Regions from separate parts of the Homo sapiens genome. Here region 1 is linked to region 2. The links come from fine-mapping of genetic effects on gene expression. A gene starts in region 2. The other region holds a variant in brackets. All regions are shown on one strand. Distances are from middle to middle.

Region 1 (4,229 bases), 170 kb before region 2:
CATCCCTTTGCTTCCTCTCCAATACGGACCCATCTTACTGTGTCCTTTCCTCTCTGGGGCCAATGTGAGTAAACACAGACACAGAGTTCTTTCCCCCAGCTCTTCCTCCCTCACCTGCATGCTGAGATAGCTTCCATCCATGCAGTTCCCAAGGATCTGGATTAGAAGTTCAAAGGGGAACCAGCAGTCACCTACTCCCTTAGGTGAAGCATCTCACGGCTGAGTTCTCCCTGAGGCATACTGGTCCAGCTGAGCGTCCTAGAGAAAGCTAGCAAAAGGGAGGCACATGGATTTCACAGTATGAATTGGTTCAACAACTGTCTTAGGGAGAATCAGAAAGAAGAGATGCAGCAGGGGAATGAGCAGAACAAAGATTTTTCTTTCTCCCCCTTCTCTCTGGGGTCTACCTAACCCTGACCTAAAATACCAGGGCAGCGATCTCCCAGCTGGTGCAGGTGGGCTTGCCAAGATGGTCGTCCAGGAGCCCGCCTTCACTTCTAAATCTGCTGGCCACAAGCCCTGCTAAAGATACACATCTCACCCCCTCCGCCAAGTCTGAAATGCCCCTCCCCATCTCACCTTAGACTGAAAAGTTTTAAATCATGTCAACTGGATAATACTTGCTTTATGTGAGAATACTTCAGCAGAATGGATACGAATTTTCAAAACAATCTTTTCATATCTATGTATTCTATATTAAAAGTGATAAAGTCATGTTTCTGGGGCGTATTCAAGTAGCTGACAAGTAATTATTTAATAATAGTACATGAGTGCATTGTAATGATTCTCGCCGTAGTCAGGTAATAGTATCCAACCGAAATTTCCTACCAACCTGCTGTATCCAAAGTTTTGTAAAAAGTTGTAGAAGTTGTTGATCTTTTTGATTTTATATTCAAAAAGTCTCTTTTTATAAATATTATTTATTATACAATGTATATACCTTTGAGTTAACTAAGATTATATATTATATAAATATATATATATTTGGAGAAAATATATTTCATCATGCAGTTTTTTTCTGTTAAGTCATTAAAGAGAAGGTAAACAAACCTAAAATGGATACATTGTACACTGTGTGGAGTTTCCAGATTAATGCTCAGGAGGTCAAGGATACGAGATTCTGAACATGGTGGCCTCAGCTAATTAAATGACCAAGTGAAGGTTATTTCCTCTGTTTTCTAAGCAAGATCATCAGAGATGTCACGGACAGTGGGTCTGATACACCACAGTACATTTTTAAAGGCTTCTTTTGTTCTAAGTTAACTTCTAACAATGAATTTCCAGTTTTAGAAAACAACAACTTGTGTACTAATTCATTTCACAGACTCAAGTATTTTCAATGTATAAATTAATGTCACAGGCACTCCTAAAAGATGTGGCCCAAGGCCAGCAGACCGCAGGGGTGGCCACTGCCTTAATCCCCTCCTCACCACGTTTTCAACTCCATTTAATGGGAAAATAGGATTTTCTCTATTGAAAATGAAACTTGACTGAAAATTGTCTGTCCCCTGCTAGCTCCACTGTGAGAGCTAAGCCGTAGAGGGAGGTAGGCTGGTCTACAAGAAGAAAGCGTGTGCCCTGGGCTGTGGGCTGTCTGGAACAATTGTCATTTGAAGTTGGGTTTGGGTTTGGGTAGAAAGGGCCTGCCAGTGGGCATGCTCTGGGGATGGGCACCCTCTCAGATCGCCACTTCACAGGACCCACTGGAAGCTCACAGGTTATGCCTTCTCAACAATGAGATGCCACAAGTTGGTTTTATGACAACAGACAATCCTTTAGTTTTCAGACCTACCCATAAAATGTCACCTTTGGTTTATTCAGCACATTATTTCAGAGAATAACAAAAATGTTTTTTCTTTTTATTTCTCCTGACCTACCTCATTTAGGAACAAATCTTACCTCACTACGAAGAGAAATAATGAGAACAGGCTGGGTGGGGTGGCTCAGACCTGTAATCCCAGCACTTTGGGAGGCCGAGGTGGGTGGATCACTTGAGGTCAGGAGTTCGAGACCAGCTTGGCCAACATGGTGAAAGCCCGTTTTTACTAAAAATACAAAAATTAGCAGCTGGGCATGGTGGTGCATGCCTGTAGTCCCAGCTACTTGAGAGGCTGAGGCAGGAGAATCACTTGAACCTGGGAGGCGGAGGTTGCAATGAGCTGAGATCGCACCACTGTACTCCAGCCTGGGTGACAAGGCGAGACTCCATCTCAAAAAAAAAAAAAAACAAACAAAAAAAAA[C/A]CAGGAAAATAAAGCCATGAGCCGCCTATGGTGGAGGCGGGCTGCTCTGCGCTGTATTCAGACCTGTGACCTGAGGTTAGGAATAGCCACCAGAAGTTGATGCACTCTGTTTTGTCCATGATGTGTCTTTAGCCCCTGAAAAGCTGAAACCACAAAAACTGTTACACTTCAGCCATACAACGAATCGGACACGTACAGGATACAGATCTCCTCTACATCTTACAGTCTGGTCATTTTTATTTCATTTCGACTTTTTATTTTTCTTTTGCATAAAGCTAATGCAGGTTGACTACACCTTTTCTGAAATGCTTGGGACCAGAAATATTTCAGACTTTGGAAGATTTGCATATATACAATGAGGTATCTTGGGGATGGGACCCAAGTCTAAACACGAAATTCATTGATTTCATATGCACCTTACACACATAGCCTGAAGGTAATTTTATGAAATTTTTAAATAATTTTGTGCATGAAACAGTTTAGACTGCATTTTGAATTTTGATTGCCACCTGTCACACAAGGTCAGGTGTGGAATTTTCCACTTGTGGCATCCTGTCGGTGCTGAAAAGTTTTAGATTTTAGAGCATTTCAGATTTTGGATTTTTAGATTAGGGATGCTCGACTGAACTTATCTATCCCAGAATTCTAGGTACTTTTTCCTTTTTTTTTCTTTTTTTTTTTTTTTTTGAGATAGGGTCTTCCTCTGTTGCCCAGGCTGGAGTACAGTGGTGTGATCATGGCTCACTGCAGCCTTGACCTCCTGGGCTCAAGTGACCTCCTACCTCAGGCTCCCGTGTAGCTGGGACCATAGGCATGTGTCACCATGCCCAGCTAATTTTTTAATTTTTTTTTTTTAGAGATGAGGTCTTGCTATGTTGCTCAGGCTGGTCTTGAACTCCTAGCCTCAAATGATCTCCCACCTCAGCCTCTCAGCATTGGGACTACAGGCATGAGCCACCCTGCCTGGCCAGTACTTTTTCAATCAATAAGATTGCCAAATATTTAAATGGTCCCTATTCATACTAATGAAGACCATTTGTAATCGTATGATTAGTTTTTAATTTTTAAGAGACAAGTGTCTATGTCACTCAGGAGTACAGTGGCATGATCATGGCTCAACACAGCCTTGACCCCCTGGGCTCAAATGATCCTCCTCAGCCTCCCAAGTAACTAGGACTCAGGCGCACTCTACTATGGTAATTAAAAATAAAATCTTTTGTAGAGATGGGGTCTTGCTGTGTTGCCCACTGGTCTCAAACTCCTGGGTTCAGGGGGTCCTCCCACTTCAGCCTCCCAAAGTGTTGGGATTACTGGGTGAGCCATCACACCCTGCCCAGTCTTATTTGATGGTTAAGGAGAATACAGTTGATAGCTGTGCTTGAACATGTAGTTTCTCCTTATGTATAAGTACTTACAAACGTCTAAACACAAGAGGACGTTGTTTAAAAATCTGAAAGAGACGACATAATTAGAAGATATCTTTCAAAGCAATATTATTTTATGAAGAAAGAAGGGAAGGAAAGCATGTGAGACAGTTCAAGGATGAGGGGATGAGGTACAAAGAAAGGTGGAAGGAAAGAAGGTAGGGAAAAAGAAAAGCAAGGAAACATGATGGCGACATGATTCTTGGTGTTACCTAATGCCGTCTCCCCTGGTGGCCCTGGGCATAGGGACATGTTCTTGTGTGTGTGGCTGGTCTGCACACTCGAGTGAAGTCAGTGCAGCTACGCATTGCTGCTACACTGCCACTGTTTCTCCTAGTTTAATAGAGAACCTTCTAGGAGGCAAAAATTTCTTACCATTAATCTTATACTCCCAAAATAGTGAGACAGAAGTTGCATGGCGTCTACGCTGGGAAAATTTCAAACATGATCCCTCCTTGGATATTTTGTCTTCACCCACTTGGGATGCTTGCCAATCACAGGCGCTATCTCCCGCATCTTTATGCCATGGTGCCCGTCCAGCACACACCCTTGTGGGCTCGTCTC
Region 2 (4,526 bases):
ACAATAGTGCAAAGGTGATAGGCATTCAGCAGAAACTGTACTTTGAAGACCTACACAACCATTCTGTTTTTCACTATCAGCACAGTAATAAATGACATGAGGTATTCAACATTTTATAATATAGGTTTATGTTAGATGATTTTGCCCAACTGTAGGCTAATGTAAGTGTTCTGTGCATGTGTAAGGAAGGCAGGCTAGGCTAAGCTATGATATTCGGTAGATCGGGTGTATTAAATGCATTTTCAACTTCTGATACTTTCAGCTTACAATGGGTTTATCGGAAGGTAGCCCCATCGTTAAGTCGAGGAGTATCTACACAAGTTAGGTGGGCTAAGATCCTGGGTTCGGAGTTGAAAAAGCTGCGTTTCGGGACCTTGATTTTAAATAAGCAGTTGGACATATTAACCTGAAACTTAAAGGGCAGGTCTGGACTGGGGGTAAAATATTGAGAATCACTGGCATATAGACAGTTGTAGCTATGGGCTTAGAAGAAATTGCCTGAGCGGGAAATTGAGAGTGAGAAGACGGCCTTTGAGGAATACCAGCAATGAATAACAAAGTAGAGGAGGGTGAGGCCGCAAAAGAGAGGTCTGAGTCAAACCAGGAGCGAGGCATTCCAGAACACATGTGAAGAGTGCTTTCCGTCAAGGAAGCCATGGTCAACAACGTCAAACGCTGCTGAGATATCAAATAAGATAAGGATTGAAAGGTATCAATTAAGTTGAGGGACAGGTTTCAGTGGGATGATGGGGCAGAAATCAGACTGCAGTAGGTTGAAGGGTGAGTAGGTGGTAAGCAAATGGAAGACAATAAATATAGACAACTCTATCAAATTTCCTGCTGTAAACTGGGACGGGAAAAGGTGACAGCTGTGGGGGTGGGGGAAGGGTTTAAGATAGAGAAGCTTGATTATGTTAAGAAGGAGCAGGTGAATATACAGATAGGGTCTGAAGTACTGGCAGAAGGACTAGCCTTAAAAGGAGAGGCCATGGGGAAAAGGAAGAGAAAGAAGCCAAACTAAATGACCTTTAAGATCCCTTCTTACTCTAGAATCTCATGACCTACAAGTCCCTTCAGATAGGGCATTTGCATATATGCATAAATCTATGCAAACTTATTCAAAAATTCTGTTATAAATAGATCAGTCAATCACATCTTTCACCCCCAATGACGCAGTTAATGTCCTCAGGTTTATGACCAGTGTAATCTCCGGGCAGGACTCATCCCTTGAGAGCTTTTAGCTCAAGGCAGACTGCAATACAGCACTCAACCAGCTCTCTCTCCTCGCCAAACCCATCCTACCCAACGATCCTAAAGGCTAAAGGAGGAAGTAAATTTAAAACCCTGAAACTACAGCATATCCTGCTGCATTCGAAGCGAGTGTCATCCATAAAAACAAAACGTGACACCCCAAATCCATCCTCACTCCAAGCTAAAGCCAATTCCTGCCTGACCCGACAGTTGACAGGTCCCCCAGATGGCCGGGCTTTAACACTAAAAGTCATTGGCACCCCCTCCTCTTTCCCAACGACCTTTAATTTGTGAAGAGCCAGACATGGGTTCCTGAAGATCCTTCCTACACCCCTTGCCCCGAATGCAGCAGAGGTGCTCCCGGCAGTTACTCCGGCGCCCCCTAATAAGCCCTCGCAAGGGGGTGCGGAAAGACCCCCAGAGCCCGTCAGAGGGGGCTTCGGCGACCGCGACCCTGCGGCTGTGTGGAGGACGAGGGAACAAGCCCCAAGGGATGGGAAGGGAGGATGACGGGAGGCGCAGCAGACGCGTGTAACGAGGGGTCATCTCCCCTCGAGGGGGGTGGAGTTGTTGAGGAGGGCTAATCCCCTGCCACCGCTCCCCTGCTACCCTCAAGTCCCGCTCTGGCCTCGCGCCCCATTGCTCGGATTCACTCCCACTCCTCTGGGGCCGCCTGGACCCCAGAGTGCCCGCGAGCCCGGCGCCCCTGCCTCAAGCCTGGGCTCCCAGACCGGCACTCACCCGGCCCGCCATCTTCGCGGACACGTCCGGCTCGGCGGCTGCAGCTCTGCGCTCGGCAAAGCCCGCCCCCGCCGCGCGCGCGCCCCCGCCGCCCGCCCTCGCGCAGGCGTGCAACCGCCGTGAGGACGCGCGCGTCCCTGGCCGCGTCCCCGGCGTCCTCGCTCCACAGGGCGCGCGCGCGGGCTCGGCGGCCGCCTGGGGTGCGCGGGGTGGGCAGAGCGGCGGCGCCATTTTGGCTGGAGCTGCGGGGCTGTGGTGGGTGACTCCGTTTCCAACGTGCGTGTCAGTCCGCCGGGGCCTGGAGGGCTGCGCCTGCGAGTCTCATCCCCCACTGGCGGTTCGCGCCGGAATTTGTCTCAAGGGCTTTAATGCTTCGGATCACTTATCCCTTTGCCAGCTGCTGTTCGCCCTCGAATGTCCATTTTGGTCTGTGCTTCCACACTCTCTTTAAACATGGTCTTGCTGATGAGAGCGCCCGGCGCGTTCCCTGGCTTCCCCCAAAAAAGATCAGCTCCGAGGAGTTGGTTCTGAGTTCAAATTCTCCATGAATTTTCTCACTTTTCTTTGTAGGCGTACTTGTTTTCCTAGTTGCTGGAATTGTCATCGTTGGCAGTTTTATTTATGTGTAGCCTGGAAAACTCAGTATTTTCAGATTTGAAAGTGAATTGTGATTATTTTTATACATTATTTTTATTAAATATTTGTCTTTATTTAATAAAGGCAACTTGCATCTTCGACCAACCTTTTCATTCCCCAGTGTTGTTTCATTTTAGACAATATATATGGTAGAATCTGAATAAAATATGCCCTAAATTGAGCCTTGTTGAACCTCAATGTTTCCACCATACCATTTCTCCACTGGAATCTCAGAATATCTAACTGCAAGCACGCTGAGAGGAGAAAGATTCTGCCGAATGGATTCCCTGATGCTTTTATTTACCCCACTATCATATCTCTCTTCATATTTGCACAAGACAATAGGGAATGATAGGATTTGTTCGCTTTCATTTCTCACAATTAGAATAAATCGGGGTTTTTTTCCCAACATGAGGAAAGAAGGGAAATAACTAGAAGAGCTGAGCATGCATAGTGATTTAAATTTGAGAACTAATAAAATCAGACAGTGACCTGAAGATGAACTAGGGACAGAAGAAAAAATTCATGCCAGCCAGGCGCGGTGGCTCATGCCTGTAATCCAAGCACTTTGGGTGGATCACCTAAGGTCAGGAGTTCCAGACCGGCCTGGCCAATATAGTGAAACCCCGTCTCTACTAAAAATACAAAAATTAGCCGGGCGTGGTGGCGGGCGCCTGTGATCTCAGCTACTCAGGAGGCTGAGGTGGGAGAATCGCTTGAACCCCGGAGGCAGAGGTTGAAGTGAGTTGAGATTGCGAGGCTGGGCAACAGAGCGAGACTCCGTCTAAAAAAAAAAAAAAAAAAAAAAAAATTCACGCCTATTTCATTAAGTCTCACACTGAACCTGAGGACCAGGGTGCTTGGTTGACCAAATCAGATGTTAGCTAAATCATGGGTGGGTCGGAGAGGTTATCAGGAAAGATAGGAAACTAGTTGAGTTCTGACATACTAACGTGCAGAAGCTACTAACTTACAAAAACAAATATTAGAATGGCTTGGGGAGTCCAAAGGGTTAGGTTCTTTTCTTTGTCCCTATCTACCCATCACCTGTGTACCTTCATCTCTCTGAGCCCAGTTTCCTTATTTGTTTTTGTTTGTTTGTTTTTGAGACGCAGTCTTACTCTGTCACCCAGGCTGGAGCACAGTGGCATGATCTCGGCTCACTGCAACCTCCGCCTCCCGGGTTCTAGCTATTCTCCTGTCTCAGCCTCCCAAGTCGCTGGTATTACAGGCGCCTGCCACCACACCCAGCTAATTTTTGTATTTTTAGTAGAGACAGGGTTTTGCCATGTTGTCCAGGCTGGTCTCGAACTCTTGACCTCAGGTGATCCACTGGCCTTGTCCTCCCAAAGTGCTGGGATTACAGAAGTGAGCCACCACGCCTGGCCTAGTTTCCTTATTTGTACAGTGAGAGGTATAATTAAATAAGCTTAACAGTTGTATCCTTTTTTTTTTTTTTGACACCTTGACTTTGAACCTAGAATCAAAGAGATTTTGTCCAAATAATTACCAGATCCAGAAGATGACATTGGTTCTCAGTCCAATAATCTGACATTATTTTCAAGGTTGGAAAATAATGCAAACATGTTTCTCCCTATCACTGGTTAGTTTGTCTTGTTTTACTAGATAAGCTAGATTGCAAGTACAAATGTCTTCAATTTCTCCAACAAGGAAGAATATTTATCATCTTGGAAGGATATGCCTGCTGGAAAGTTTCCAGTGTATCAGCTAATGTGCATATCTACCCATTATAAGAGGCCCTCTGTGCCCTCTCAAAGCCCTCTGTGCCTTCTCACAAGTAGTAAAAATTAAATAGAATCATTTGCACAGCCCTGCAGGGCCTGCCAAATAAATTGCAAGCAAAGATAGCTCTTGTCCTTAAGGTCCTTAGCATCCAG

Which allele goes with the higher level. Positions count from the first base shown, and alleles are read on the strand shown. Sizes are in standard deviations (SD) of each study's normalised expression.
For the expression in monocytes after R848 of the gene that starts at base 2,111 in region 2, allele C in region 1 goes with a lower level than allele A (moderate effect, 0.66 SD a copy in Quach 2016).

Evidence for each region. PIP is the estimated chance that this variant, and not a neighbour inherited with it, causes the effect.
Region 1: its variant is the best candidate, but not a certain one, in a credible set for the expression of NSF in monocytes after R848 (Quach 2016, PIP 0.83).

The regions. Positions count from the first base shown.
Region 1 is chr17:46,759,333-46,763,561 of GRCh38, reverse strand. It overlaps WNT3 (Wnt family member 3), which reads left to right. Exons shown (of 5, transcript NM_030753.5): 5 at 1-1,056. It also overlaps a transcript of LRRC37A2 not described here. Among named protein-coding and RNA genes, the nearest start is that of WNT3, 57 kb to the left of the region's middle. The variant C/A (reference allele first, on the strand shown) is at 2,242.
Region 2 is chr17:46,588,254-46,592,779 of GRCh38, reverse strand. NSF (N-ethylmaleimide sensitive factor, vesicle fusing ATPase) reads right to left here and starts at 2,111. Exons shown (of 21, transcript NM_006178.4): 1 at 1,993-2,111. The coding sequence starts at 2,004. It also overlaps a transcript of LRRC37A2 not described here.